Homo sapiens: one gene and its partners. The protein of the gene in region 2 interacts with the protein of the main gene of each other region in a pairwise test. Each region holds a gene or a part of one and is shown on either strand. Other genes may lie near its edges.

Region 1 (8,052 bases), on a different chromosome or scaffold from region 2:
CTAGGGTGAAGACCACTTTACTTCCCTAGGCACAATACTGCACTGGTCACTGGAAGAGTTTCAATCATTTTAACAATCAGCCACTGCCAGACTGGCCTTACACAAATGGTGTCTGAGCAAACCATTTTCTCTTAGCAATGCCCAACCTTGTGCAGCCTGTTTTCACTTGTGGCAGAAGGCTCCATCCTATGAAGGATAATGGGAAGGCTTAGAGAGCACTGCCCAAAGTAGTACAGAAAGAAGTGCAAAAAAAAAAAAAAAAGGAAAGAAAGAAGTGTGAGGCAAATGGCTGCTGGAAAGTTCCAGGCTAAGTCTTACCTGGAAAAGCCAAATGGATCCAAAGAAAACATTCCCCAGGGAAGACAAAAGCAACAAGCTCAGGGCTGACATCAAGATACCTATAAGACACAGCAAAAAGCTGTCTTGAGAGAAGCCAAGGCAAAGTAAAGCAATCCCATTAAAGCCATTCCTTAACTTCCCCCAGAATGAAGGTTAATCTCAACTCAATAGTCGCAAAGGAGTTAGGGGTAAGGAAGGAGTACTAGTGAGAATTCTGGCTAAAAAGGAGCCCCCATTCCCTGTTTCCCAGTTCACACTTACCTCCCAGAAAGAGGTAGCTACGGCGCCTGGCATAGAGTGCACTGAGGGTGAAGCAGGTAAAGATCATTGCCGTGCCCATGAAAGCAGTGGGAAGGATGCTGTTAGAAAAAAAGACCATTAGATTAAGGGCTACAGGTATACGGTCTACATTTAGAAGGTATATTCATAAAGATAAAAGCACATAAGACACTACCAAAAGAGTTACCTGGGGTTGACAGCAATACAAAACTCCAGGGCAGGGCCCAGGCCAACTCCTAGAAAACAGAAAACCCAGAACACAGTATTACGATCAATTCTTGAATAGGATCCTCATCCAAAAGCTGATCCCGAAATATAGGCATACTCATGCTCTTAACAAACGTGGACTAAAGAATTAAATCTCTCTCCCCTCCGCTGTAATTGTTTTCAATAAAATGTATACCTGACTGCGTTGTTTTTTTTTTTTTTATAGAAATAGCTGCAAAATTGTCCTCTTAGCTGAAAATCATGGATGACCTCAGGGAGGGTACAGAGATTACAAGAAAATAAAGTAGGCATGCCAAACATTTCAGAGCTAGAGTGATGTAAGATGGTAATATAGGCCAGATCAGGAATTAGAAAAAAAGGATAAAGAGCAAAACAGTGCCTCGTGGCCAGCAACCTTATAGTCATGTAGGACTGACTCCCCTTTGTAGCAAAGAAAGGTGAGACTGGTTCTGCAGGTGGACACCTGCCAACAGGAGGGCAACCTGTTCCAGCTCTAACATTTCTTTCGTTCTAATTACTTTCCTCTTTCCTTCTGATAATTCCACCCCTTAATGCCTTCAAAAACTAGCTTGCCCTGATGCAAAAATTTTAATCCCTAAATCTCTTCCTTTCTAAAATTTCTCCTACGTATATTAGACTGTCACTCAGAACAAGCTGTTCTAATTCAAATGTTTTGCAAACATTTTTATTACATAGCTTGAGTCTTGTTTCCTTTATGACAATTCTAGAAGAGCTGTGCCTTTCTTTTTTTGAGAATCAGCAAAGTGTCCTGCACAATAGATCTCAATGTATAGCTTTAATGCACTGTCTGTAAGACTCAGAACAGAAGCTCCTATGATAATTGCCAGTATGGGTGCAACTATGTCGGATTCTCAAGTCTAGTTTATTAAAAGTTCTATGCCTACTATTAATAGGTTATGCTACCTAAGCTCTTGAACCTCATTCATTCAAGTACACAATGGCTATTTTTGGACACAAAAGTAGAGTCACAGTGGCTACTCACAGAGTTTCCCCTAATGGATGGGGAAACAAAATGAACCTATATGAGATTAGAAAGCAGGCCAGGAAGGCCAGGCACAGTGGCTCACGTCTGTAATCCCAGCACTTTGGGAGGCTGAGGCAGGTAGATTACCTGAGGTCAGGAGTTCGAGACCAGTCTGACCAACATGGTGAAACCCCGTCTCTACTAAAATACAAAATTAGGGCCAGGGGCAGTGGCTCATGCCTGTAATCCCAGCACTTTGGGAGGCCGAGGTGGGCGGATCACGAGGTCAGGAGTTCGAGACCAGCCTGGCCAACATAGTGGCCCATCTCTACTAAAAATACAAAAGATTAGCTGGCGTGGTGGTTGATGCCTATAATCCCAGCTATTCGGGAGGCTGAGGCAGGAGAATCGCTTGAACCTGGGAGGTGGAGGCTGCAGTGAGCCAAGATCGTGCCACTGCACTCCAGCCTGGGCAACAAGAGTGAAACTCAGTCTCAAAAAAAAAAACAAAAAAACAAAAAAAAGCGCTGGGTGTGGTGGCTCATGCCTGTAATCCCAGCATTTTGGGAGGCTGAGGCGAGCAGATCACGAGGTCAGGAGATCAAGACCATCCTGGCCAACATGGTGAAACCCCGTCTCTACTAAAATACAAAAAATTAGCCGCTGTAGTCCCAGCTACTTGGGAGGCTGAGGAAGGGGAATCGCTTGAACCTGGGAGGCAGAGATTGCAATGAGCTGAGATCTCGCCACTGCACTCCAGCCTGGCCACAGGGTGAGACTCCATCTTAAAAAAAAAAAAAAAAAAAAAAGCCAGGAGGCAGGGTACTATGGCTCACGCCTGTCATCCTAACACTTTGGGAGGCTAAGGTGGGTGGATCACTAGGTCAAGAGATCAACACCATCCTGGCCAACATGGTAAAACCCCATCTCTACTAAAAATACAAAAATTAGCCGGGCATGGTGGCACATGCCTGTAATCCCAGCTATTTGGGAGGCTGAGGCAGGAGAATCGCTTGAACCCGGAAGGCAGAGTTTGCAGTGAGCCAAGATCACGCCACTGCACTCTCTAGCCTGGGTGACAGACGGAGACACTGTCTCAAAAAAAAAGGAAAAAAAGGGCCAGGCACGGTGGCTCATGCCTGTAATCCTAGCATTTTAGGAGGCCGAGACGGGCGGATCATGAGGTCAGGAGATCAAGACCATCCTGGCTAACACGATGAAACCCCGTCTCTACTAAAAATGCAAAATATTAGCCGGGTGTGGTGGCAGGTGCCTGTGGTCCCACCTACACGGGAGGCTAAAGCAGAAGAATGGTGTGAACCTGGGAGGCGGAGCTTGCAGTGAGCCAAGATCAAGCCACTGCACTCTGGCCTGGGCAACAGAGCGAGACTCTGTCTCAAAAAAAAAAAAAAGAAAAAAAAAGGGGGGGGAACTAATTAAGAGATACTGAAAATATAGCTCACCCCTCAAAATTAGACAAATCCCTTAACGTACCTGTAAGGAATGCAAATCCAGCAAGAAGTCCCAGTCTTTTCTGTTCAGTTTCATGGCTATGAGGTGTTGCCATCAGCCAAATCATCAATATCAGGGAGCCCAAGGCAGACAGCAGGCCAGCCTGTTAGAGTCAGAATCAATCAATCATTAAACACTTGAAAGTTTCAAATTTATTTTGCAAGAGACCTTTATTGGGTTCAAACACTCGTCTGAACTTCCTAACATTTGCTTATAACCTGGAGGCAGGAGAAAAAGTAGTGTTTTCTCAGGGATGGGGCTGAGGAGATAACCCAGAAGCCTTGAAGCACAGAGTTAGGACCATGGTGGATGCTGGAGGCTCTTCTGGCTTGCGTAGTCCTTCAACTACAGTACAACTACCCAAGTCAAACTATGAGTGAGTCTTGCCCAAAAAATAGAAAGGATGAATGAAACGTGACAAGTGCTTAAAGTACATTCCATCTGTAGAACAAATAGAAATGATCCCCCTTTGGTCACTTTAAAAAAAACATGGTGGCTCACGCCTGTAATCCCAGCACTTTGGGAGGCCGAGGTGGGCAAATCACCTGAGATCAGGAGTTCGAGACCAGCCTGACCAACATGGAGAAACCCCGTCTCTACTAAAAATACAAAATTAGCCAGGCATGGTGGCACACGCCTGTAATCCCAGCTACTCAGGAGGCTGAGGCAAGAGAATTGCTTGAACCCAGGGAGGCAGAGGTTGCAGTAAGCCAAGATCACGCCATTGCACTTCAGCCTGGGCAACAAGAGTGAAACTCCGTCTCAAAAAAACAAAAACCAACAAACAAAACCCCCAAACACCAAAACACCAAGACACATACATATACAGAAGACTGCAAAGTACTAAAATGTTAACAGTAGTTATTTCTGGATGATGGGATTATGGAAGTTTCTAAAATACTTCCTTCTCATTGCTAGTCTGTTTTCTGAATTTTCTAAAATGAACACATATTAGCTTTGTAGTAAGAAAAAAGTGTTTCTTTTTTTAAAAACGCCAAGTGGGAAAAACTATAGGCATTAGAAAAAAGAGAAATCATTAAGGATGGACGTAGACACTGAAGTTCCTTCCTTCCTTTAAAGGAAGAAGTTGATTCTCATTATTCAGTGTTTATGTTATAAAATCACAGTGGACAATGAATTAGTAAACCCTTGTTCCTGAGGGAAATAAAAGGTAGGTAGGTTCCTGCAAGCCTAAGGTCACAACATTTTCATCAAATGATCAATAGATACCTTGCTTTTATATGTGTTTCTGTTTAAGGACACCTCATTTGACATTATTTTTGATTCCTTAACATTGAACTCACAGTTACAACAGCAGTACAACTCATGCCGGAATGAAGCTTATCTAATATACACATTTTCTTCATAAGGCACATTACGGTCTTTCTGCACTCAGGAATACTAGACAGCACTTCAGCACTATGCTGTTTGCATTCTGAACAGCAAAATTAAGCCAAGCATGGTGGCATGTGCTTGTATTCCCAGCTACTTGGGAGGCTGAGGTGCGAGGATCAATTGAGCCCAGGAGTTTGAGACCAGTCAGGACGACACCACAAGACCTCCACTCAAAAAACCCAGCAAAATCACCAATTAAAAGCACAAAAATACAAAGGAAGTGGCACTAAATGACCATGAAAAGAACATTTGTTTACAATACGAGAACTGAAACAAGAAGGCAGAGCACTGTCTTGTTCAACCTCAGCTGAAAACACTGCAACAGCAGGGTGACTCAACTTTTTCACCACTCTGTGACTGTCTGCAAAAAGTGCCATGAGTAACAGAGCGAGACTCTGTCTCAAAAAAAAAAAAAAAAGTGCCATGAGTATTGATTTTGGGGTTACAAATTTTAATGAGTAGGTGAATTCACAAATATAGAGTCTGTGAATAACAAGGATTGACTGTATTTTACTAAATTATTTAAGGGCTAACCTTGCCTAAAACTCAAGCGATCAAAGCCCTATCCTTTGAGTGTCTAAAGTAATTTTTCACACAATCCCTGCCAGGAGATGCCTGAACATAAGGATAGTTCTCAACAGTGGCAAATGCCAACAGAGGCCCACCTCTACATTTATGCTAAAAGGAATACTCTACAAAGGCACAAGACTATGTTAGGGAGTCTTCAAACTTTCTGGTTATTCCTCAAACTGTACCTTCTACTCCTGCTGACCAAACCCAGATTCTCTCTCAATACAGGAAAACAAATTGTTGAAGGTTTTTACCCAACCATGCAGACAACAGTTATCGGAAAATAAAACAGGTCAATTCCTTAAAAAGATCTCAATCCTGCCTCTCCTGATAGTTAATCACACAATCAGAGTTTTGTAAAGGAAGAATGGAGGAAAAGATAAAAAAGCTTCTGTGCCAAAGAATCCCAGCATGCATGCCATGCGCCTACTCAGTGGGTGGGGGTCTTGTACGTCAGCAGCACACCATTCAGTGCCAAGGTTAAGGCATTCTGTTTTTCGGTATCTAGAGGGGGCACAGTTGCCAGAAAATTAAAATGGCTTTACATGTCCTGATTTAATGTCTGAGTTTAAATCCTAAACTACTGATAAAGATTAAAGAGAGGAACAGGGTCCCTTGGACCACCTTGCTGAGCTGGTTTTTTCCTAATGTAATTTGTACCACAGCAACCAGGAGAGAAAATCGTTCTTACCTGAATGAAATGAGTGACCATATGGACATAGGCCCCTGCAGCCGCCACAAACATACAAAGGGCAAAACTTGCATAGACCTTCTTCAGGTGCTGCTGCGTTGACGGGGTTCTAAGAAAAGAATGTGAATAAGAGCAATCAGTCCCAGATCAATCTCATATTTAAGCTAAGAAGAATCATTTCTCTCTTTCCCTTCCTGGGAATATGTAAAAGTTCTGTTACAAATAGTTTGAAATACTTTTAGGAAAGCATATTACAATAAAAAATAATATTTTGAAAATAGGTTAACAGAACCTTAAATGCTGAGGAAGACCAAATGCCCAAAATTATGAATAATCAGTACCCAAACTAGAATAAATGCCTTTCCAATAACCACACAGCAACGTGTAGAATTTGGACATTTTCATCAGGTCCTCTGGATTCTGGCCAAGTTAATTTGTTAGCTTATACACACAAAAGTTATAAATGCAGAAAAGGGACAAAGAGATATGAAAAGAAATGCAGTACAAAACCAGTCAAGGTCAAAACACTTACATATGAGAAAATTTTAAAAGCGCATCAAAGTTGATCTTTCGATCAAATATGTTCATGGTTCCAGAGTCCGTGCAGCAGTCTCCACTCTGCAGAATAAAGAAAGGTTAGAGTCATTAAGTCATACAGAATCACACGAACAGCTTATAAAAAAAAAAAAAAGCAACATGTAAGTTCAGAAAGATGAAAACTTGCCTAAAATTCTACAGCCCTAACACAACCATTTTTATTTTTATGTGTCCTACAATATATTTGCAATCATAGTCAACCATCTTAAAGACGACAGAGGAATTGAATGCATCTTCTTCTCCCTCAAACTATTTTGTTACTATCATCTGATTTCTATTCTTTCAGGTGATTTGCCACTTTAAAAGGCAGTAAGTTTATAAAAGAAATTCTCAATTAACAATCTAGTTAAAGGAACCTAGACATTGGCACATAAAGCAATTTTATGTCATTGTTTCAAGATGCTAAAGAATTCCCTTGGCTGGGCATAGTGGCTCACTGAGGCCTATAATCCCAGCACTTCTGAGAGGCTGAGGTGGGCGGATCACCTGAGGTCAGGAGTTCGAGACCAGCCTGGCCAACATGGTGAAACCCTGTCTCTACTAAAAATACAAAAATTAGCTGGGTGTGTTGGCACACACCTGTAATCCCAGCTACTCAGGAGCCTAAGACAGAAGAATTGCTTGAACCTGGGAGGCAGAGGCTGCAGTGAGCCAAGACACGCCACTGCACTCCAGCCTGGGCAACAGGGCAAGAGTCCATCTCAAAAAAAAAAAAAAAAAAAAAAATTATCTCACTAGCAGCACCTCAAAGATAAAAAACAAAACTTTGACTAGTCTTAACAAAACAAACAAAAACTATAAAGCTGGGTCTGGCATTAAGACTTGCATTTTAAATATATGCGTATCAAATTTTCTTAACCTAACACATTTAAGAACTGAACTGAAAAGGACTCACAATTTTAAAAAAAGAGAGGTTCCTACCTCCATAAAAAAGGAATTTATGCAGAAAGGAGGATTTTTTGGGGGGTATTTTTTTGACAGTTTCAGAACCTTTCCTACAGAAAGGTTAGAACAGTACAAAGAATTCCTGTACAACCTTCACCCAGATTTCCTAAATGCTAATATTTCACATTTGCTTCATCTTCTTTCTATATAGCAATATATAGACAGATGTAAAAATATTTTTTCCCTAACCATACAGACACAGTGCTCCTAAACACTTCAGTGTGTATATCCTGAAAGCAATGATCAAAATCAGGATATTAATACTAATGCAATACTATTTCTAATCTGCAGACCTTATTCAGATTTTTGCCAACTGTCCCAATGTCAAAAAGGGCATTTTTAAACTGAACTATATCCAGGTTAGATCATATCAACACCATAAAGTCAAGTTCTTAAGTTTTGCTCCCTCCCCTATTTCACATGCAATCCTAAGTAAACGTGTTCAATCTACAGTACTAAAGATCCAGTCAAGAACTTTCATCTCTTCTAAATATAAATCCTCCAAACTCCT
Region 2 (8,052 bases):
ACATTAATTCTTACATCAGATGCATTTGTCTTCATCCCTCTGAAGCAAGAGTGTCTTTAATCTCGGAACCCTAAAAGCTGAGTAGTAGAAAAGCTGCACCACACAACGCCGTGTGAATAATGTCCCTGCTGTTGATAGTGTGAACCAGAACAACCATGCACAGCAGCCCTGAGACATGGGTTCCTAGAGAGAGTCATCTCGGTAAATGGATGACTTCTTTTTCTGGAAAGGAATCCACCTGAATGCCATGTCCCAGCTTTCTCTGTTATTGTCCATTCACGGCCACCCTGTGATAGCTAGGTTTTCTCAAGCTGAACTAAGGACTTTGGTTATAAAAGGAGAAAAAAGATATAATTTCCTGTGGACAGCAAAGTGACCCTGCATCTAGGAAATTTACTCATTTTTTCAGAGGTGTGGAAAGACTAGGGCACAGACCAGCGGGCCTGAGCCATCAGAAAGGTTCTTTTTTGTCCAGGTAGTTATAGTGCCCTGTTGGGGGAGTACCGCACCCAGATTTCCCTGACTTGGTGTTCACAGAGGACTTGATGCAATTGTGGTTTAAAAAAATAAGCCTAAGTCACAGTTGGAACTGAAGTGCCTCACCCAGTCTGTCATCTGTACCAACTTGTGGAAAGGAAAGTGCTGAGTGTGAGCACTTTTGTCCATAGAAAGCAATTAGAATGCTCTGTTGGTTGCCTTTATGGTGTTTTATATGTTAATGATGTGGGACATAAACTTGCAGGCCTCAGAGACTAGCCTTTAAGGCAGAGGGAACAGCAAGCGCAAAGGCCCTGAAGTGGTAGCATTATTGATATGATTCTAGAAATGGTGACTTCAGAGGTGGCTGGAGAGGTGTGAAACAGATGGAGAGTGATAAGACGTGTATGGTCAAGAGTTAGAGAGGGTGGATCATGCAGAGTCTTGTAAACCATTATAAAGACTTTGGTTTTTACTCTGAATGAGATAGGAAGCCATTAGAAGGTGCTGAGCAGAGAAGTGACAACACTTTGACTGCTATGTTGAAGAGCAAAGGTGAAGTCAGAGAAACCACTTAGGAAGCTATTTCAGAAATCCAGACAGAGGTGATAGTGACTTCAACAGGGATAGTGGTAATGGAGGTGATGAGAAGTAATTGGATTATGAATGCAATTTGCAGGTACAGCCGCAAGTATTTATTGAAGGAAGAGATGTGAAAGGTGAGAGAAGGGCAATTAAGGATGCTTCAAAGGCTTTTTGACCTAAAAAATTCCATGTACAAGTAGAAGTCTTCAGGAAGAAGGTAGGGGTGAGGAGGGAAATCATGAGGTTTATTTTTTATTTTATTTTAACTTTTTGTAACACATTAAGTGTGTGATGCCTCTTTAGATAGCCAAGCTGTTTTACAGTTGAACAGTGACCTGAGGTATGACTATCCTCTTTAATGTCAATTGCTCTATGCTCGTATTTTTTAACTGGAGACTTCGCTGTCAAGAAGATTAATTGGTTATAGAACAGTATGTATTGTTAGAAGGTTTTCCTTGTAGGGAATTAAAAGGTCTCTTAAATTTCTACCCATGGATCTTGATTATACTTTTTTTGGTCAAAAAGCATTAGTCTTATCTCTCTTCTCCATCATACACCTTTGGCTATTAGGAGGTAAACTAGCCTAACTTATCTAGATCCACTCTTTCCAAGGAACAGAAAGGAGGATTGGATCATGTAATGACTAGGTCTTAAACATGTTTTTATCATTTTCTTTTTAAGTCTTTTCTTCTGTAGGGTGCCAACCATGTCTGTGCCAAGCACTTTATGTAGGTCATTTCACTAGTCCTCACAAGTCTTTTAAGCACTTATCTGTGTTCCAGCAGCAGCAGCAGCTGCTGGGAGCTTGTTAGAATTGGAGATCTCAGTTATGTCCCAGACCCACTGAATATGAATCTGTATATTAACAGGATCCTCAGGTGAGAGTTGTAGGCACATTAAAGTTCAAGAACCATGGCTAAAAGTGATTGATATATATGAGTAAACTGAAGTCCAGAGAAGTAAACTAGCCCAGGGCCATGGAGTCCATTTAAAAGAAGAATTGGGTCTAAGTGAAAGTAGCTTCTTAGGTAGTCACATCACATGTACTGAAAACTGAGGAGTTATTGTCAATGAAAATTTTCTAGGTGTTTTTCATAAGAGCCACCCTTAGACCTACTTTCTCTCTTCTGTACTTGTATGATGGATTTAATCCCTAAGTGTAGGTCACATTCTATGTAGTTGTAAAGATTCAGCTTAGTATTTTTGATTATGAATTCTGTTATCCAGGATACTGGTTTTCCATTCATGTTCCAACTCCATATTCTGGAGATTTTTCTGCATGTTCTCTGTGTCTGTACCCAATGTTTAGAAAAGGTTCAGCAGGTCAGAGTATGAAGCAGAGCCTTAAGACTCATGATTAGTGATTCTTCTCTCCATGTAAATATTACTCTATTCAAGAAAAGCTTTTTCTAGGTCATGGTTTTCAACTTTGGCTGCACATTAGGAATACTTAGGGAGCTGGAACAAACAAACAAAGAAAAAACAAACAACAGCAACAACAAAAACTACCAATGACTGGGCTGCACCCTAGACCAGTTTTAAATCACAGTCTCTGGGAAATGGGCCTGGTATCAGTATTTTTAAAGTTCATCTATTGATTCTAATGTGCAGCCAAGTAGAGAACAACCTTTGAGACCATTGGGCAAAGAATGCATCCGCCTAACCCTTCTCAGCTCAGCTCACATTTGTTTCTTGCAAAATTAGGAAAGATAGTATCAAAAACTAGGAACCTTGACTGTTACCCTGTACAGCTAGTGCCCATATCAACTGATTCTTAACTTTCTTTTCCCAACGTTATCCTACATTTTTCTTTTAAGGGCTCATTGAACATATCATAAGGCTCTATTATGTCCACCAATCTGAGAGGGGAAAAAACAAACAAATCAAGAAAAATCTTGTCTAAATAGTGTGTCATTAAAAGGTCAGAATATAGAACCTTCACAAATGTCACCCTATGTTAAATTATAATGAAGTCACTTATTAGAAAATGTACATGTAAAATAATAATTAAATATAGTTTCTATGAAAAAAATCTCCAAAATAATCATCAAGATTAAATATTAGCCTTGATTCAAATTTTTCTAAGGTAGTCAAAAGAGAATCAGTCTTGAAACACTGGATGTTTATGAATAGACCTTGGTGTGATTATGCACAATGGGATTAATTTTTTTAAATTAATGTTAATTGCAATCAGGAAAAAGAGTCTTCTAAGGAATGAGTGGCATATTGGATGCACAATATGTGAAGATCTAATTTGCATTTACTTCGGTGACATTTCAGGGCTCCTTCATAAATATTTTATTTAAACAAGTGTGTTTTCATCTCTGCGGGACTCCTCTACATGGACCAGTGAGTGGTTTAGTCATGAGGTAATTATCAAGAGGGGAAAACAAAAGCAAATTGTAGTAAAGGCATCACAGGCAGCCCTATGGCCAGCTGCCTCTTTCAAAATAAACAATCAAAAGCACAAACTTTTTGATGTGGGATAAACTCTCAAGGAAAAATTAAACTGACACCTAAAGGAAATCATCCTCAAATTTTCTATTATGTATAGAGCATAGATGTTGCTTTCACTGAAGTAGCATTGAGGCACTTTTATGTTTGTGCTGCAAGTGCAATTTCCCATATGGTTGGCTTAAAAACATTCATAATCTCTTCCTAACAGGTTGACTTGAGGGAACTAACAAGTTCACACTCCAAAGTGTATAGAGAAAGTGGAGGAGCTTAGTGAGAGGCATAAATGGGGGAGCAATCTCACTTTTAAAAGGACAAGTATGGAGTATGTATTTCTATTTTCTGAATGAAGTTTGAATAAAATCACCATTTGTGGAGAAGTTTTCAGTTTTCACTGCAATCTTGGAGCAATAAATGTGCATCACGACTTCCTTTTCTTTCAAATGTTTATTTGGTGGGCTCTAGGAAGGGCTTTAGACCACATCAAATCCTGAGGACCAGGCTTTGCAGATCTCTTTGAAATCTTCATATGGCCTTGCACATGTATTTTATCACACAAAAACTTTAAATCAACATTGATAGAACTGCACTTGAAAGAAAAAAAAATCTTCTAGGACATCAAGATGACAAAGTGGAATAAGCAAGGACTTTGGAGTTAGAATCTGACTGCACTTACTACCTTAGTGACCTTGAGTAAAATATTTAACTCTTCATTTTATTCATCTATAAAATGGGAGTGGAAGATTGCTGTAACATTGTGCCCAGAGTAAATGCTCAAATAAATGATCAATAAATTGATGTTGTTGGTAGTATCACCTGCCCATGTTTCCTTTCAGCCGTGGTCCACAAACATGTATATGTTTTACCATTTGTAATTATTTGTAGGCTAAATTTACTTTCTACTTTTTTGTAAACTTAGCATTTTATTACCTCTTATTAGCTGTGTGTTCCTGGACAAGTTATTTAACCTCTGTGTCCTCATTTTCTCATCAGTAAAATGTATTACTAGTATCTGGGTTACTAGTTACCCAGATAAAATACAGGCTGCCAGTTCAATTTGAATTTCAGATAAACGACAGGGAATATTGCATGGCACATAATTATACAAAACAATCATCTGTTGTTTATCTGAAATTGAAGTAGAACTGGGCATCCTATATTTTTATTTGTGATGCTGACAACCCTATACTAGTACCTATCTCGCAATGCATGCGAAATACCATAGTACCTGGTATATGCTCATAGTAATTACACGTAGTAAATGCTCAATAAATACTAGCCATTATTTCTATTATTATAATTTTCCCATTGTTAACACTTATTAGTACGTAATTATTATTGTTGTGATGACTATGTATATTCCAAGAATGGGTATACCTTTTTTATTTAACCATTCTTTTGAGGCTATTCTAGCTTGTAATTTTTTTTTAGTGTGAATAATGTCTTGTATTTATAGTCCCCTGTTTCCTTTTGGGAAAATTTTTTCATGATAAATTATAAACAGTGAGCCCTAATTGCTTTCTGGTAGATCTATGTTAGTTAGTCCTGCTACATGTCAACAGTAAATCCGCTAGCATTAGGTGTATAATGTGAACAAAAGGTTGCTAATTTAACATGGTTTAAACAGCTGCTTAGTTGTTTCAATTTGTGTTTTTTTTGTTGGTAAGACTGAATATTTTTTGTTTTGAACCTTCTTATATTTACTCTTAAGTGAATTTTTTGTGTTCTCTACCACATTCTCTATCATGTACCAGTTTATTTTTTGAGAATCTTAATGTTTTTTTCTACCAATTTCCATTAATTAGAATGTAAATATTCTGTCAAATTAGCTCACAGAAGGAATATTGTATAGTGAATGAGCTCAGGTTGTCTGACTATAATCAACCCATTATATTAAAGTGTCTTTTGAAATTTCAGGGGTGGTTCAATAAATAGGGATTCGTTGTAACACTCTTTTCCAATGCAAAATGCTGCATTTATTTATATGAAATATGAAAAAGTTGTTATAATTTGAATCTCTTTTTCTTTATGTTTTCTTTCCCACTCCAACCTACCCCACCCTACCCTTGTGCAGCTGTTACTTAACCACGTTGAATTGATCAATCTTTTCTAGTTATAATTAAGTTAAATTCCAAAAACATTTATTGAGGGCCCCTTAAGTGCTATGTACAAGGTTGGGCATCTGTCATTCAAAGATACATTAGACATGCTTACTGCCTCTATGGAATTGACATAAAACAATAATGGCAATTAATAAAATCAAGAAGGGAGATATCTACTGGATACAGTACAGAAAAAAGAGGAGAGAAGTAATTAGCTGACTTGAGTGGATCTGCAGAGGCTTCCTACAGAAGTCTATTCTTGGGCAGAAGAGTTTGTCTGGAACTAGTTGGTGGGAAGAGCATTCTAGGAATTTACAAAGGTCCTAACACAGAAGAGGATGGATCCTGGGTAACAGTAAGTTGAGTGTGTGTTGGCAATGTTGAGAGATGGATCTGCTCTAGTAAACAATGGTCAAATCAGATCACGAAAGCCCCTGTATGCCATTGCCAAAAACCCACTGAGGACTAACTGGAGCACTCTGACACAGAAATCTTGAAAGAAGTACAATTTATATCATAAGCCCAAAGCAAAGCACACCAGGAGATTTCAGTTCCATGAATGCAGCTTCTGAAGTCTTCCTGGTTCCTTATGGAAAATATACTCAGGTTACTGGCAAATATGTTCTTTCTGTCCAAGGTAAGGTCCTAACAGATTGGAATCAATGAATGGAAGTTTACCCATTTTAGATCCCCAACATATCACCCTGAAACCCAACTGTAATTACCTTGAATAGTTGTAAATACTGCCTTTAGCAAGTTTAGTCATCTGGTTCAAACATCTGGATTCCAGATATAATTCCTGACTATGCCAACAGTGACATCTTGCTTCCTTGCCTGGTTATTTAGTAATGAAAAAGCAGTGTGTTCAGCTGCATTGTAACTATCCAGTCTGTGGATGTGCACAGTCTGTTTTCTCTGAAGTTATAGGGCCCAAGAGGGAATACGCATGGCAGGCCTGCCTAGTGCCCACCAAGCCACGCTGTAGAGATAGTTCTTTATTGTGTGTACAGGGTCTGCCAATTAACAGGCATAATTTTAAAAAATAATTGAATTGAATGCCCTTAAGTGGGTCACAGGCTGTCCATTTCTAATATCTGCCTCCTCGTCCCCACCACATACATGTACACTTTGCTTATCACATTTTTGGGACATGCCTGCCTATTGAAGACATCTTAGTTTGTATCAGCTGTAGCACTGCAGAACCATTAAAAGAGTTTACGCTGAAAATTCAGGTGAGTTTTATCCCTTAATTAGGTATTCTGGAGACAGGATAAACATTGATTGGAGAGGTTATAGTAGGGGATGCCAGTTATTTGCTCACCATATATTTATTGAGCATCTACTAAGTACCAGGCTCTATCCTAGGTATGTACAAATGTAGATACCTAGACACAGTATTGTACATACAGTAGGGAATGAAACAGAAAATTAAAAGTTTGCCCTCATGAAACTTACATTTTGGGAAAATGATAATAGGTACATAAATTATATTGTATGTTAGATAGTAGTAAGTGCTAAGGGAAAAAACAAGGCATGGAAAGAGATCAAGACATAAAGACTAAACTGGCACCACTGAGAAGTTGACAAATGAGTAAAGGTCAGAAGGAAATGTGGGAGCAAGATACACACGTAGCAGGGGGAAGAGCGTTCCAGGCAGGAGAGCGGCGGGTACAAAGGTCTCAAGGCAGGAGCATGCTTGACGTGTTCAGATATTAGCCAAGGGTTAGTATGACTGTAGTGAGGTTGGCAAAAAGAGAGTAGTAGTAGATGAGGTCAGAGAGGTGATGGCAGACTGATTGTAGGCCTCTATAAGCCATTTTAAAAAAGTGACTTTTACTTGCAGTAAGATAGGAAGCCATTAGCAAGTTTTAACAGAAGAGAGATAACATCTGACTTAGGAAGAGAAAGGATCACTCTGACCAGCACATAGAAAACAGACTATAGGAGGGGAAGGTTGAAGTTAGGGAGAGGAGTTATAAAGCTGTTGTAATCATGTAGGTGAAAGATGGTGGTGGCTTGGACCAGAGTGATAGCAGTGGAGATAGTAGGAGGTGGTCAGATTCTGGGTAGCTGGAAGGTGGAGATGACAACATTTACTAATAGATGGATATTGAGTGTGAAAGACAGAGAGGAGTCAAGACTAAGACTGTGGCCTGAGCAGCTAGGAGAATAGAGTTGTAGGAGAAGTAATTTTGAGGGGAATGACCAGCAGCTCAGTTCTTGATGTGGGATATTGGAAATGCTTATTAGTGAGCCCAGTGGGGATACAGACTAGCCGTCTGGATATATGAGCCTGGAGTTTGGGAAAGATGGCTAGGCTGAAGGTATAAACATGGGAGTCATCAGCATGTATGTGATATGGGTCTGGCTGAAATTATCTAGGAAGGCACAGTGAATGGGAGAGTGAAGGGGACCCGCACTAAGTTCTGGAACT
Region 3 (8,105 bases), on a different chromosome or scaffold from region 2:
AAAACCAATCACACCATCCCAACAGTCCCTCAAAGTCTTAAATGATTTCAGCATTAACTCAAAAGTCCACAGTCTAATGTCTCATCTGAGACAAGGCAAGTCCTTTCCATCTATGAGCCTATAAAATCCAAAGCAAGTTAATTACTTCCTAGATACAATGGGGGTACAGGCATTGGGTAAATACAGCCATTCCAAATGGGATAAATTGGTCAAAACAAAGAGGCTACAGGCCCATGAGAGTCCAAAATCCAGTGGGGCAGTCAAATCTTAAAGCTCCAAAATGATCTCCTCTTGACTCCACATCTCACATCCAGGTCACGCAGATGGAAGGGGTGGGTTCCCATGGTCTTGGGCAGCTCTGCCCCTGTACCTTTGCAGGGTACAGCCTCCCTCTCAGCTGCTTTCATGGGCTGGCATTGAGTGTCTGCAACTTTTCCAGGTACACGGTGCAAGCTGTCGGTGGATCTACCATTCTGGGGTCTGGAGGACCTCTTCTCACAGCTCCACTAGGTGGTGCCCCAGTAGGGACTGTGTGTGGGGTCTCTGACCCCACATTTCCCTTCTGCACTGCCCTGGCAGAGGATCTCCATGAGGGCCCTGCCCCTGCAGCAAACTTCTGCCTGGGCATCCAGGCATTTCCGCACATCCTCTTTAATCTAGGCGAAGGTTTCCAAACCCCAGTTCTTGACTTCTGTGCACTCGCAGTCTCAACACCACATGGAAGCTGTCAAGGCTTGGGGCTTGCACTCCCCGAAGCTACAGCCCAAGCTCTACCTTGCCTCCTGTCAGTCATGGTTGGGAGTGGCTGGGATGCAGGGCACCAAGTCCCTAGGCTGCACACAGCATGAGGACCCCGGGCCTGGCCAACAAAACCATTTTTTCCTGATATCTCTGGACCTGTGATGGGAGGGGTTGCCATAAAGACCTCTGACATGCCCTGGAGACATTTTCCCCATTGTCTTGGGAATTAGCATTTGGCTCCTGTTACTCATGCAAATTTCTGCAGCCAGCTTGAATTTCTCCTCAGAAAATGGGAATTTTTCTTTTCTATCACATTGTCAGGCTGCAAATTTTCCGAACTTTTATGCTCTGCTTCCCTTATAAAACTGAATGTCTTTAACAGCACCCAAGTCACCTCTTGAATGCTTTGCTGCTTAGAAATTTCTCCTGCCAGATACTCTAAATCATCTCTCTGAAGTTCAAAGTTCTACAAATATCTCGTGCAGGGGCAAAATGCCGCCAGTATCTTTGCTAAAACATAACAAGAGTCCCCTTTGCTCCAGTTCCCAACAAGTTCCTCATTTCCGTCTGAGACCACCTCAGCCTATGGACTTTATTGTCCACAGTGCTATCAGCATTTTGGGCAAAGCCATTCAACAAGTCTCTAGGAAGTTCCAAACTTTCCCACATTTGCCTGTCTTCTTCTGAGCCCTCCAAACTGTTCCAAACCCTGCCTGTTACCCAGTTCCAAAGTCACATACCCATTTTTGAGTATCTACGGCAGCACCCCACTCTACTGGTACCAATTTAGCCACTGAAGTAGTTGGAGAACAGAAGTAATAGACTCTGGTTTACATTGTAAAAGCTTCTCTGTGGCTGCTGTGTGAAGAAAATATATGAGAATGAAGCCCCAAGATGAAGCAGGGACACAGTTGCAGTGGTTAGAGTAAGAAATGCTGCTGGCTGGCACTGAAGTGATAGCCTGGAGGTTTGTGTGTGCACATGCATGTGTATGTGTTTTACGATAGTAGGCCCAACAGATACTGTAATCCACACTTGTTTTTTTTTTTTTGAGACAGAGTCTCACCTGTTGCCTAGACTAGAATGCAGTGGCACAATCTTGGCTCACTACAACCTCCACCTCCCAGGTTCAAACAATCCTTGTGCTTCAGCCTCCCGAGTAGTTGGGATTACAGGTGTGTGCCACCGTGCCCAGCTATATTTTTTGTATTTTTAGCAGAGATGGGATTTTGCCACATTGGCCAGGCTGGTCTTGAACTCCTGGCCTCAAGCAATCCTCCCACCTTAGCCTCCCAAAGTGCTGAGCCACCACACCTGGCCGCAACTGATTTTTAATCATGAAATGACACATACATTTAAAAAACCCAATACCTATAATATTCCTGGCTAGTACTCTTCACATCTATATCATCAAAAACAAAGAAAGTATGTGAAACTGACACAGCCAAGGGGAGACTAAGGAGACATAACAATTAACTGTAATGTGGTATTCTGGAGGGGATCCTGGAACAGAAAAAGACATTAGGCAAAAAACTAAAGAAATCTGAATAAAATGTGGATGTCAGTTAATAATAATGTATCATATTAGTCCAGTAATTGTAACAAATATACCACAATAATGAAAGCCATTAATTATAGGGAAAATGGAGGGGTTAATATGGGTGGCTGGCTTTTGCTATTTCTAGCAGCTCCATTTTATCTACAAAAGACAAACATTCATTAAGTCCCAAAAAGGTAAAGAATGACAAATTAAGCATGTATCTTATTAGTAAGAGTAATATAAAGATGCTCACTCATATTTATAAATATTTGACAATCATGTTAAGGCCAGAAAAGAGAAAAAAGGGTAGGGGCAAAAAACGCAAAGAGAAAGGAGTTAGTATCTTTTCTCCCGCACTCATTAGCTATTAAAAGAGGATGTTTGTTTAAAGCTGCTCAGAGCTGGTAAACTAATGTTAAGTCACTAACGGGAATTTAAAAGGTTTCATTAAGAACTGCCTGCACTAGATTCCTCCACCCTGAGACATTAAACAATCACGATAAACCTCCTGAGTGGTAAGAACGTGTCCATTTAAAAACAGGCTATAGATTGTCATGCAGTTTTATCTACTAATCGGCTAATGCACCGCCAAAAACAAACAAAAAAACCCAAAGGGATGAAAGTTTCATCCATCAAAGGAAACAACAGTCACCTTGGTTCCCATCCCACTCATATACTGCCGCCGTACATGTCAATCAGATGAACCTGTGCGTATCTCTTAACGACAATTGACCCACCTTTTTAACTGAAGTGAAGGGGGGTTCTGCTCCGCGACCACTTCCTGGATCTCTCCCTTCACCCTCTGTGTTCTTTCGGGTGCACCATCGGGTCAAAGCCGCAGCAACGCCGTCTCTGTGTGATCGCATGTGCCCTTCTGCACACGACCTTCCCCCGAGAGTGACCAGCTACCGGACAGGCACCAAGGAGGGCTACCGAGCACCTCCCGGACCGGCGGCTGCAGGATCGCGAGCGCCTCCGCTAGGGAGACCGCACGTTGCGCCTGTGCTTCCTGCGGTGGCGCCTTCTGCAAGGAGACCTCGACCCTGCTCCCTCTCCGGGGCTGGATCTGACTCCTTGACGGTGATTCCAGACGCGAGACCCAAACTGACGGCTTCTAGAAGAGGGGCGAGCCCGGCCGCAAGTCTTTCACGTAGCTAAGTCATCGTTGCTTCCGGCTTCTTACCGTTCTCCCCTTTGTAAACGGTTACCTCCCGAAAACCCAGGCTCTCCTCCAACAGTGGTTCTCAAGCGAGGCGATCTTCCCCGGGAGGGGATATTTGGCAAAGTCTGGGGGCATTTTTGGTTCACTGGGGCTGCTACTTGCATCCACTGGGTAGAGGCGGGGGATGCAGCTACACAACCTGCGAAGCACGGGACAGCACCCTCCCCAACCCAGACAGAATTAGCCGGCCCAAAACCTCAGTAGTGCCCAGGCTGAGAAACCCTGCCTTAAACAAACAACAAAGAAAGGCCAAGTCCCATAAGTGGGTCACCGCGCCGAGACTGGGGTCCACGGGACACCCCAGCCACGCCAAGCCGGGAAGTCCCCGCCTCCTGGAGCTGAACCCGCCCCTCTCCCAGAGGTGGAGCTGCGGGGGGCGGGAACAGGCACGGAGAAAATAAACAAGACTAAAAAGTCCTGAGTAGCGCTGTGTGGCCGCAAACCTGAACCCACCTTTTGCACCACGCGGGACCCGGCACTCTTCCTGCCACCCACCCCTGAGAGGGCTGCGCGGCCGACCCCAGTACTAGAAAACACTCGTCACCTCACTCAAGACGGGTACGAAGGCCAACGGACGCCTTCCTTTAGAACGCTCAGCACACAGAGCAACTTCTCACGCCTACTCTCAAATGGCGTACTCCAAACTAGCACTCCCGACGTCCAGCTGTGAACCCAGAGCGGCGGAAAGCCCCTGAACCCAGCGCCCGGGCATGCGCAGACGCGTTGTTGTGGTGGGCGTGGCTCCCTCCGGACCCGGCGCCCCGCCCTCCGCCCCGTGTCCGCATGCGCGACTGAGCCGGGTGGATGGTACTGCTGCATCCGGGTGTCTGGAGGCTGTGGCCGTTTTGTTTTCTTGGCTAAAATCGGGGGAGTGAGGCGGGCCGGCGCGGCGCGACACCGGGCTCCGGAACCACTGCACGACGGGGCTGGACGTAAGTGTCGGGCGGGGAGTGGGGGTAAGAGAGTAGCGGCCGCAGGCTGGAGAGGCCTCGGAGCCGGGGCCGTCTGACGGGCTGGTGCCCACAGCACAGGCTCGTTGCCGCCACCCTCCCGGAAGCCGCAGACCCGGGCTGAGCCGCCGCGGACCTCTCCTCTCCTGGGTCCGGCGGCGCCAGGAGAAGGCGACGGCGTCCAGACCCCGCCAAGACGGAGAGGGGACCGCGCCCTCCCCCGGGACACCCCAGGATCCCTGGAAAATCCCCCGATCCCCCACTTCACAGCTGGACAAGCCGAAGCCCCGAGAAAGGAGCGTGACCCGGCCAGCTCCCTCAGCGAGGGGTGCCCCGGCTAAAGGTGGCTCCCCCATCTTCCAGCGGCGTCCCTCGAGACCTAAAAGTCCCAGAGTTTGGAGGGCGGGGTCTGGCTTGAGCGTACCAGTCGTCGTGCAAAGAAAAATGGATTCGGGGTGGGGCCATTGGGATGAACCGAAAATAACACTTATTGAATTGCAGTTCTTCCCGGGGAAGAATCAAATGAGTGAATTTCCTAAATTGAACTTGTCCCAAAGGCATCTTAGCATTGGCTGTAATCATATATTTTAATATTTAATTTTTAAAAGAGAAGTTAAAAATGGGAGACGTTGCTCTATTGTAGGGTGTCATATTTTTGGACAACCATAATTGCTGGCTACAAAGTATCTTAAGGAAGTCAAGTTCGCTGTAGGAGTTTGGGTGTTGTTATTCGCAAGTTATATGTATTTCAGGCTTTTTCATACTCTGAAATAGAGATAACATGGCTGTATCTCAGGTCTCTACTGCTCGGCTTACAGGAATGTTTTATATAATTTGTAAAGACAGCTTGGGTCGGCTATATTTAAATAGCAGTTGGATTTTTGTAATCTGAATTACTATTAACCACGATTCTGTGCTTGCTTTTGGCTGGAAACACCCGTTAGGATCAGAGATAGGGATATTAAAGTGGATGTTCTTTATATAGAAATGACACCAAAAGGCAGGCTTGCAGAAAGAAAAATAATGAATGAAGTGAAAGGAAATGATGTGGGTAGAGGTAAGAACTGCAGTGCAGTGTTTAATTTCTTGATTTAGGTGTGAAGAAACACACGTTCTGTGATAAAATATGTAAATTAGAGAAATATTTTTCATTTGAATCTGTAATTCCACTCAGAGCCAAAGTTTATCACTTGTCTCTCTACTAATGTTAGTGCTCCTGGACTGTAAATATCAAATTCATTTAATAAGTTTGGAATCAAAATGATACAAAAGAGCTCCTGTGGATTAGTAATCATATACTTGGTATTAAAAGTACCACCTAAACTAATTTAATACCTACTTAGAAATAATAGGATGTGACAGATTTTCAGGAGGAGGTCAACCAGTAGTTAAAATTTTTTCAATATTTGGAGACCCACCTTTGTTAATACTGCTTAAATATATCCAAACCATTTATTTCTATTTATTTATTATTATTTTTGAGACAGAGTCTTGCTCTGTCGCCCAGGCTGGAGTGCAGTGGCACGATCTCGGCTCACTGCAACTTTCGACTCCCAGGTTCAAGCGATTCTCCTGCCTCAGCCTCCCAAGTAGCTGCGATTACAGACATGCGCCACCACCCCCGGCTAATTTTTGTATTTTTAGTAGAGATGGGGTTTGCCATGTTGGCCAGGCTGGTCTCAAACTCCTGACCTCAGGTGACCCACCCACCTCAGCCTCCCAAATTGGTAGGATTACGGGCATGAACCACCACGCCCGGCCCCCAAACCATTTTTTACATTAAAAAAGATACTAAATGAATCCAGATATTACTTTCCAAAGTTATAATGTGGAAATTCATCAAAAACTAAATCAAATATTCTGAAGAAGTATGTGGAACCAAAATAAAGCATTTGTAATTTCACTTTTATCTAATTATTCCTGAGCTATTAATTATTTTTCGGGCTTGAAGCAAGTAAATGGAAGTACTTATTTAATTGTTTGTTTGTTTGTTTTTAAGTGACCTGAAAAAAATGTCTGGATTTCTAGAGGGCTTGAGATGCTCAGAATGCATTGACTGGGGGGAAAAGCGCAATACTATTGCTTCCATTGCTGCTGGTGTACTAGTAAGTGTCATTGATTATTTGGGCCTTATTTTTTGGTGCGTTTGTGTTTATGGGTTTTGAATTCTGCAGGATGTTTTAAAATATGTACTATTTATTTTATCTTTGACCACTTTGACCATGTTGATATTTTGTTGTTTGTGGAGAGTTATTAGTTCCACTTTAAGAGTTTATGGTTTAAAATTTGATTAACAAGTGGTTGGGTTGTTTTAACTGCATGGTAAAAATGGCATAATAAAACATTTGTTCATTATATGGATTATATCTCCTTTTAATGAGTATATTAAGGTACAAGGAAGTGTTTAAGACGCAGTCAGGTCAAAACCAGTCAATAGATGTGATTGCATTTCTCCATAATCCAGTTAACTTTCTTCTCAGTCTCAGGGAAAAAAAAGTGCTCGCTTTGGCAACACATACACTAAGATTGGAATAATACAGAGAAGATTAGCATGGCCCCTTAAAATTTTTTTTTAAAAAGCAAAAACAAAAAGGAAACTCATTAAAATACATTGTGTGGAAGTAATTTACAGAATAAAATTCTTATTTACACTTCAGATCCCTCAAGGGATCTGCTATTAGTTTTTTATGATCATATGGTGTCGTAGGCTCTAAAGAGTAATTTTTTATTTTTATTTTTTGAGATAGAGTTTTGCTCTTGTTTTTTTGTTGTTGTTGTTTTTGTTTTTTTTGGTTTTTTTTGAGACGGAGTCTCAGTCTGTCGCCCAGGCTGGCGTGCAGTGGCGCAATCTCAGCTCACTGCAAGCTCCGCTTCCCGGGGTTCACGCCATTCTCCTGCTTCAGCCTCCCGAGTAGCTGGGACTACAGGCGCCCGCCACTGCGCCCGGCTAATTTTTTTGTATTTTAGTAGAGACGGGGTTTCGCCGTGGTCTCGATCTCCTGACCTCGTGATCCGCCTGCCTCGGCCTTGCAAAGTGCTGGAATTACAGGTGTGAGCCACCGCGCCTGGCCTTGCTCTTGTTTTAGTAGAGACGGGGTTTCTCCATGTTGGTCAAGCTGGTCTTGAACTCCCGACCTCAGATGATCTGTCTGCCTCGGCCTCCCAAAGTGTTGGGATTACAGGCATGAGCCACCGCACCAAGCCATTTTTTCTTAAGCTTTAAGATTTATTTATTTTCGAGACAGGGTCTCACTCTGTCTCCCAGGCTGGAGTACAGTGGTGAAATCACTGCTCATTGCAACCTCGACCTCCCGGGCTCAGGTGATCCTCCCACCTCAGCCTCCGGAGTAGCCTGGACCACGGATGAAGGCCACCACACCGGGCTAATTTTTGTTTTTTTTTTTGTTTGTTTTTTTTGTAGAGATGAGGTCTCTCCATGTTGCCCAGGCTGGTCTCCTACTCCTGGGCTCAAGTGATTCACTGGCCTTGGCCTCCCAAGGTCCTGAGATTACAGGCTATTGCACCTGGCCAAAAAGCTTTGAGTTTTTAGTCTATGAAGAAAATATCTTAAATACATTGAGCTGAGGGTAAAAAGAAAGGCATATGTACTCATGCTAGCCATTAAAAATGTTATTAATCGAGTATGGATCTG
Region 4 (8,052 bases), on a different chromosome or scaffold from region 2:
GTTTAGTGAGCAATTGTTTTTAGACCTTTCAATGTGTCTGGAAACATCAACACTACGGGTATGATTAATTTTTATAGGAAAACAAACTGAGTGAAAGCACAATAAAGAAAAAACAAGAAATATAATTCTAGCTTTAAAAAAATCTGCACTCTTTAAAGCAAAGGAACTCCCAGGGTATTGAGCAATTTGAGTAAATCATCATCATACCAGGCCACAGGGCAGTTTTCCCACAGGGCGGGGTGCACAGGGGCTATTCCTTTACATGGAAAATATTTCGAGGTGAGTTGCGTACTTTCAGTCTGGGGCGTTCCATCTCTAACGCGGGCAGTTGCTGCTCTGCCCTCTGCCTTCCACCGCTTTCCACTTGTTAAATGTAACTCATCCCATTGGTTTCCTTCCCACCCCTGCCAGATAAGTAATCCAATATAGTCAGGGAGGCATTGTTTTAGAATAACGTGGGGAGGGTTCAGAAGACCACATATCTAAAACAGTTTCTACATACTGTGGGCTAAAAGAGAAGGCAGGAAAGAGGACACATCATATCATTAGAAGTCAGTATAGCCAGAGAGACAGACCCAAACCCCCAAATCATAAGTTACGAGGTTTGTCTTTTTAGGTTCTACCCTCTCCTTGGGTCTCTTTCCTTCTCATGGTGTCTTCCCTCGCCCTTTGAAAATTAAATAAGAGAAGGGAGCTGATAAATGAGGCATTGACATGGATGGCTCATGAAACTCAATGTGCCTCTTTTATATGAGCTTGCATTTTAATCAGGAATGAAGGAGTGAGTCTCAAATTGTGGCATTCAGAAGTTAGGGTAAACGGTGAGGAAGCCTTTGAATGAAGGAAAAGGATAGAAGGCTTTCTCCCTGCCAGCTTTGTTTATGTGGCTCCCTTTCTGGCTTATCTTGTAGTGAGTCTCATGGGTAGGCTCACAGGTGGGAGGTCAAGAGTTTCTCTTAATTTAAAAAGACGTAAAGGGAAGTGGATCTCCCTACCTTAAAAAGAATAATCATTAGTGACAAACCCCATAGAAGGCTGGGTTAAGAGTTAGGAAACCTGGACTTGAATCTTAACTCTTTTAATAACACATCATGATCGTGAACAAGTCACTTTCTCTCTGTGAGCCTTAAATTTCTCACCTGTACAAAGCCTCCAAGTTTGCAGCCAGAACTGATGTATCATGCCGTGAACAGGCACCTGGCCAATAACTGTCCTAGGATGAATGACACTTTAATGTCTCTCAAATTACATATCTTCTAAGACAAACAAAAACTACCAAAAGTGTAGTCATTGACTTCTAAGTGTGACACCCGTCAATTAATTTAAAAGTTTATAATTTTGCTTTTTAATGCAATTATTTGTTAAATTGGCTTTTTTGATGCACAGCAATCCAATTTTTGTGGCTTCAGAATATCTTATTAAACAAACTTGGGTGAAGAAAAGACGTAACAACGTACCAGACTATATTGCTGTGGCAGAGGCTAGTATGGAAGAAAAGCCATAAACACATATCCACAATGGTTTCAGCTTCCCTGGAGAGCTATTTGCTATAGGCAGAGAGAGGGATATAGGGAAGGAAGGATAATTCTGGGTAAGAGAAGTTGAGGAGAGAAGAGGTTTTTCAGCTGGGCTTCGGAAGGTGGTAAAGAGTTCGATAGGCAGAAATGGGAGAAGGGATTCCAAAGACAGGGACACCCTAAGCACAGCATGGTGGCATGACCAGGACACCAAAGGGTTGGGGGGGTGGGGCACGCAGTGAAAAATGGCAGGCAGGCCATTTAGAACCTGGATGGGTGCTGCCTTGAATACACACTGAGGAGTTTGTACTTTATCTCTTAGGTGGTCCAACCACTCCTCCACTGGCTGAATGGAAAATATAATAGTTGGGTCTGGCCAAATACTATAGACTGGTCTTTCAGAAGGGAACAGGAGCAAATCTGGATTCAAAGAAACTGGTCAGCAACAGAGAGTGGGGGGACAAGTGATGAACCTGGCAATAGGAAGTAAGTAGGAGCTGGTGGCTGGGCTTGTAAGTGCAGAGGGAATGACCGAGGGCTCTCCTTTGAATTTAGGCTACAGGGAACCTTTGAAGGGTTCTAAGCAGGGGGGAGATATAAATTCAGAGCTGTGTTTTAGGACAGTGGATCTCAAGATTGGCTAAGTGGCTGGCACTTGGAAGCCATGTTTATCTTTGTAGAATACCAGAAAATTTTGGTCTACTAAATTTAAAATAAGTAAGTAGATCATTTTGGCCTAAATTCATACCAAAAACTAGATTTTAGCATAGACAGGTGGTAGTAGCATCCACAATTTAAGAAAAATGTGTAAGAGGAAAATGTTTAAAATCACAAATTTTTATAGTAATTTTTCCTCAAATTAGGAAATGACTGGAATCATTCAATATTGGCATCAAAACATGTTGTCCCAGTAAATGGAACATCTGTGTTTTGGAGGATCATTTGAGAACCTCTGCTTGAGAAAGTTCACCATGGAAGCACTGTATGGAATGGAAACAGAAAATGTTTAATTCATCTGATCCAGAAGTTAGGGGCTGGCAGTGGGAATTGGTAAAATGGTATCAGGAGACATCAGAAAATGATCATATGTGCTTCTATCAAAAATATACATCAATCCCAATTGGGATGGTGTGTTACTCAAGGTTCTTTCAGAGATAGAACCAAAAGGAGATACATAAAGAGAGAGAGAGGCAACGTATGGTGGCTCACGCCTATAATCTCCACACTTTGGAAGGCCAAGTCTTGAGGACAGGAGTTCAAGACCAGCCTGGGCAACATGATGAAACCCCTTCTCTACAAAAAATTTAAAAATTAGCCAGACATTGTGCATGCACCTGTGGTCCTAGCTACTTGGGAGGCTGAAGCAGGAGGATCACTTGAGCCTAGGAAGTCAAGGCTGCAGTGAGATATGATTGTGCCACTGCACTCCCTGGGTGACACACAAAGACCCTGTTGAGAGAGAGAGAGGGAGAGAGAGAGAGGGAGATATATATATATATATATATATATATATATATATATATATATATATTAATTCTAAGGAATTAACCTATGTGATGTGATTGTGGGGGCTGACAAGTCCGAAATCTATACAGCAGGTGGGCAACCTGAAAATTTGGGGAAGAGTTGATGTTGCAGTCTTTTTTTTTTTTTTTTTTTTGAGACGGAGTCTCGCTCTGTCGCCCAGGCTGGAGTTCAGTGGCCTGATCTTGGCTCACTGCAAGCTCGGCCTCCCGGGTTCACGCCATTCTCCTGCCTCAGCCTCCCAAGTGGCTGGGACTACAGGCGCCTGCCACCACGCCCGGCTAACTTTGTATTTTTGGTAGAGTCGGGGTTTCACCGTGTTAGCCAGGATGGTCTCCATCTCCTGACCTCGTGATCCACCCGCCTCGGCCTCCCAGAGTGCGGGGATTACAGGCGTGAGCCACCACGCCCGGCTTTTTTTTTTTTTTTTTTTTTTTTTTTTTTTTTTTTTGAGACGAGTGCAATGGCGCAATCTCGGCTCATGGCAAACTCCGCCTCTCCCGTTCAAGCGATTCTCCCGCCTCAGCCTCCTGAGTAGCTGGGATTACAGGCATGCGCCACCACCCCCAGCTAATTTTGTATTTTTAGTAGAGACGAGGTTTCTCCGTGTTGGTCAGGCTGGTCTCGAACTACCAACCTCAGGTGATCTACCAACCTCAGGTGATCTGCCCACCTCAGCATCCCAAAGTGCTGGGATTACAGGCGTGAGCCACCGCGCTTGGCCTGATGTTGCAGACTTAAACCTAAAATCTGCATACTGAAAACTTAAGAGTTTCTCTGTTACAGTCCTCTTAGGGCAGAAATGCTGCTTCTTCAGGAAACATCAGTTTTTGCTCTTAAGGTTTTCGGCTGATTGGAGGAGGCCAGCCACGTTATGGAGGGTAATCTGCTTTACTGCTTTACTCAAAGTCTACTGATTTAAACGTTAATCACATCTAAAGAATATCTTCACAGCAATATCTAGACTGATATCTGACCAAACACCATATCCAAGCCAATCCCACCATATCCCAGCAATATCTAGACTGATACTGACCAAACACCATATCCCAGCCAAGTTGACATACAAAATTAACCAGCGCAAGGTGTTCATTACAATACTTCTTTATCAGGCAGGCAGAGACAAAACTCAAGAAGCTATTAACAAAGGCAAAACTACTACCAAGCCCTAGAGAACACCACAGTTTATATTCTGTGTATAGAGAAGTCACCATTTGTCCTTCCCTTTTGTTCTTTCTCCGTGCCTATCCTCTATGGAAAGGTCAACAAATTCATAATGTCTTTTTTTTTTTTTAAATATCCATTAGTGTGGAACTGTGTCAAAGCTTTTCTTTTTTAACCTAAAAAAAAGTGCATTACTCTACCCCTATGCACAGGCATTTATTAATCTTCAAAGAACCCTAAACATCAGCCAGGCCTGATCTTTTCCTTTTGTAGAAATTATGTCACCTTTCCTCTAAGTGTGCCAGGAAAGCAGCTCTTCCTAAAGATCCATCCAGCTAATGTATTATAAAAGTAAACTCACTTGTCTCAGTTTTCCAGGACTTTTCTAGACATCTTCCATTGAATGAGGGGCAGGGGGAAGTCTTTGACACAGACTTTGTAAGGTCAGCTTACACGTTGTGACCAGTTTTTCAACATCACTTTTGAGTGTCCTCTTACTTCTTGGGTAACTGTCTTCTGAGCTCAGTAATTTGCCTATTTCTTTCTTTTCCTTTAGCTCTAGAATAGTAGTTTCCAATCGTTCTGGGGCTAGCTATGTGTTTAGGAGGTTTAGAGCTGGTGAGAAGATGCTCTGTGAGCCCAGGATTCCTACTCTCGTTTCAGCCAGAGAAGTACCATTCTGATCTGATTTCATATATTAGAGTTCCCTACTGAAATCATATTTCCCTATTTCCTTTGAAAATGTTGCTCTGTATCAAAAAAATAATAATAATAAACCACTGGTTTTAGGTACCTTCACCAACCACTGGGCTATTAGCTCTAGTCTGTCTCCTTTATAAGACAAAAATAAGCAAAATTAGTATTGGGTAACTAATATTGTATTAAAACTTCACATATATTCTCATTTAATTTTCATAGTAACCCTTGAAGTTAAGTATTACTATACTCATTTGAAGATAAAGCTCGAGAAGATTAAGTAACTTCTTGGGGTCACAAAACTAGTAAGTGGTAGAGCTAAGATTCAAACCCAGGTCTATCCAAAGCCCACATTCGTTCCACTTCACCATATTCTCTAACTTGCTCTTCAACAAAGTTCTAGGCAAATTATTAATCTGCACACTCATTTATTCAAATAAACATTATTTATTTACTTTATCTTTTTATTTAGCAAAACAATTGAGTGCGCCTACTACATGTCAGGTACTATGCCACTTTGGACCTAGAAAGACAAATAAAACAGGGTCCCAAATGCCTCCTCCTACTTTGGAGACTCTTGCAATAAAGTGCAGGATGCCCTTCACAGGTTGGCAATGGGAGGAAAGAATGCAAAAGGGCAGCAGAGCAGAATACTCTCTGAGTAATGTCTGTGTCAGGGAGAAAGTGGCCCCAGGACAAGGACAACCTCAGGGGCCATCTCTGCATCAACTTGCAGTGTGGGGCAGAGGCCTTAGAGCTGGCCAAAGGCAGAGGGATGAGGCCCAATGGCGAGTGTTAACTGTTCAGGAATGCTAATGGCATGCAAGGCGGGCCCCTCCCATGTGGATGTGCAGCTTGGTACCTGACTCTGGCCGCACCCCAAGCACAACTAGGAAGTGTTTTTCCTTTTCTCTCATGAATTCATCTATGGAAAATAAAAAGAAGTACAAATGGGTATCTTGTGTAAGCCCTCCTGGTCCCTCGAGCAGAGCAGCCCCTGTGCAGTGAACAGAGGGAAGGTGGAAGGAAGGCTGCTTCTCCTCAATCTAAGAGCCCTTGGCTGTGAGACCAGTCACTGTTAAAACCTCCCTTCTATCCCCCTGGGGTCACTGATATATAAAACAAAATCATAACCCAATACCCTGCCCTTCCTAAATATCCTCTGGTTATAATTAATAGTTTCTTATATGTGTAAACAATCTTAGTGCTTACCTATTACTTTTGTATCTTTTATCTCATTTAGTGATCACAGCAACTCCATCTAACAAGTTATTGTCTACTAATTTTATAAACGAGGAAGTAGATACTAAGGAAAACATTGTCCAACTTTACACAGTAATGATAATGACAGCACAAAGCTGGGACTTGAACTCTGGCATTCTGATGCCAAGTCCAGTGTGGTCACCATTATACTACAGATATTAGACTATGCTGTGAGCCACTGGAAGCCTACACTTGGCTCCCTCTTGACATCTGTGGCCATTTGGGGGATGCAGCAAATGTTTTAGGTCCTCTGGACACCAACCTAGTCTAAAATACAAGTGGCCAAGTAGAAGCTATGAAATGCTAACCTCTCATTGACTTGCACATTGCACATTTTACTTCTAAGAATTCTGGTCTTGGGGGTAGGTGGATGAGCTGTAGATTTTTGATACATCCAGACAGGTTTTCTGGAAAAGCATGTGGGTACAGCACTGAGTTTGGGGGAAATATGCAAATATGAGCATCGTGTCCAGGGGCTAAAGAGACAAGAAGCTGGAGATGTAAGTGAAGAAAAGCCTAGTGTTTCTGACCTTTGCAAAGGTAGAGTCTCCTGAGCAGGGAAATGTGTCTGTTCTCTCCACTCCAGGTGTTTCTATTTCTACTGAAAGCATTTGCTATGTAGCAAGACTTTATAAACTGTAGAGTGTTTAGCAAATGATCTGGCGCCAGGCAGACCTGTGTTTCAGTCTCAGCTTCTGCACTTTCTAGCAATGTGGCCTTGGGCAAATTAATCTCTCCAAGCTTCCCTTTTTTTTTGTTTTTTTTTTTTTTGGAGATGGAGTTTTGCTCTGTTGCCCAGTGCAGTGGCCCAATCATGGCTCACCACAACCTCCACCTCCCAGGTTCAAGCGATTCTCCTGACTCAGCCTCCCAAGTAGCTGGGATTACAGGCACCCGCCACCATGCTCGGCTAATTTTTGTATTTTTAGTAGAGACGGGGTTTTGCCATGTTGGCCAGGCTGGTCTCGAACTCCTCACCTCAGGTGATCTGCCCACCTCAGCCTCCCAAAGTGCTGGGATTACAGGCGTGAACCACCATGCCCGGCCCCTTTTCTTTATACAAACAATGGCAAGACAACAGCTTCTCCCCCTAGATCCTTCAGAAGCAACATAGCCCTGATTTTAGCCTGGTGAGACTCATTTTAGACCTCTGCCCTCCAGAACTGTAAGATACATTTCTGTTATTTTAAGCCACGAAGTTCGTGGTAATTTGTTTCAGCAGCAATAGGAAATGCAGACCTGAAAAACCCATCTCTCAGGTCTGTTGAGAAGATGAATATCAAATGCCTAACATAGTGCCCAGAGCATTGTAAGTGCCCAATAAATGGCAGTTTTCATCACTATTTCCTTATCTTGGAAGACAGGAGTAGCTAAATTATCATGTGCCATTGATACCAAAGGCCTAAGGGAGAAGAAGAGAATGCATAGTGAAAAAGGAGAACATTTTAGTGGCCAGAAAATTCAGAATATCTTGCCCACTGACATATCACCACCTTCCAATAACCAACCCACAGCTGGGCTGCCTCCCTGGCATTTCTGTCATGTCCTTGCCTAGGTTTCTTCAATTTATGCTTTTCTTTTTGCTCAGAGCAAGTTTCTACCTTCCTTCTTTTCTCCCACTTTTATCTGCGTTTTCCACCCTAATTGTGACTCCTGCAATTCTCCCATAGAATATTCATTTGCTCTTTCCCCTTTGTCTAAACTCTGTGTGGCAGAGTCATCTCTGGAAAAGTCTGTACGTCACGGGGCATAATTGGGTCACCCAGGCCACCTCCCTTGATCGGGGCCCCTGCAGTTCCTTTCTGGACCAATAAAGCCCCTCAGCGGTGCCTCTGTCTTTCTCCACAGCCCTCCTTGTCCCCTTGATGTGCACGGTCATTTTTCCTTT

The links.
Region 1: the proteins of SYT9 (region 2) and TMBIM6 interact in binary tests that used the Homo sapiens proteins (3 or more experiments, as listed by UniProt).
Region 3: the proteins of SYT9 (region 2) and TMEM50A interact in binary tests that used the Homo sapiens proteins (3 or more experiments, as listed by UniProt).
Region 4: the proteins of SYT9 (region 2) and UPK1B interact in binary tests that used the Homo sapiens proteins (3 or more experiments, as listed by UniProt).

What each region holds. Positions count from the first base shown.
Region 1 is NC_000012.12:49,751,029-49,759,080, reverse strand, and holds part of TMBIM6 (bax inhibitor 1), read right to left. Parts: intron 6,618-8,052; coding exon of another isoform or gene 6,588-6,617; coding exon 6,532-6,587; intron 6,109-6,531; coding exon 6,000-6,108; intron 3,447-5,999; coding exon 3,326-3,446; intron 855-3,325; coding exon 806-854; intron 699-805; coding exon 601-698; intron 399-600; coding exon 319-398; intron 1-318. UniProt on the Homo sapiens protein: Endoplasmic reticulum (ER)-resident protein that confers cellular protection as an anti-apoptotic protein by limiting multiple stress-inducing pathways surrounding the endoplasmic reticulum and mitochondria.
Region 2 is NC_000011.10:7,254,451-7,262,502, forward strand, and holds part of SYT9 (synaptotagmin-9), read left to right. Parts: intron 1-8,052. UniProt on the Homo sapiens protein: May be involved in Ca(2+)-dependent exocytosis of secretory vesicles through Ca(2+) and phospholipid binding to the C2 domain or may serve as Ca(2+) sensors in the process of vesicular trafficking and exocytosis.
Region 3 is NC_000001.11:25,334,022-25,342,126, forward strand, and holds the start of TMEM50A (transmembrane protein 50A), read left to right. Parts: upstream 1-4,312; 5' UTR 4,313-4,435; exon of another isoform or gene 4,436-4,796; intron 4,797-6,452; 5' UTR 6,453-6,465; coding exon 6,466-6,558; intron 6,559-6,949; exon of another isoform or gene 6,950-7,013; intron 7,014-8,105.
Region 4 is NC_000003.12:119,176,351-119,184,402, forward strand, and holds part of UPK1B (uroplakin-1b), read left to right. Parts: intron 1-8,052. UniProt on the Homo sapiens protein: Component of the asymmetric unit membrane (AUM); a highly specialized biomembrane elaborated by terminally differentiated urothelial cells.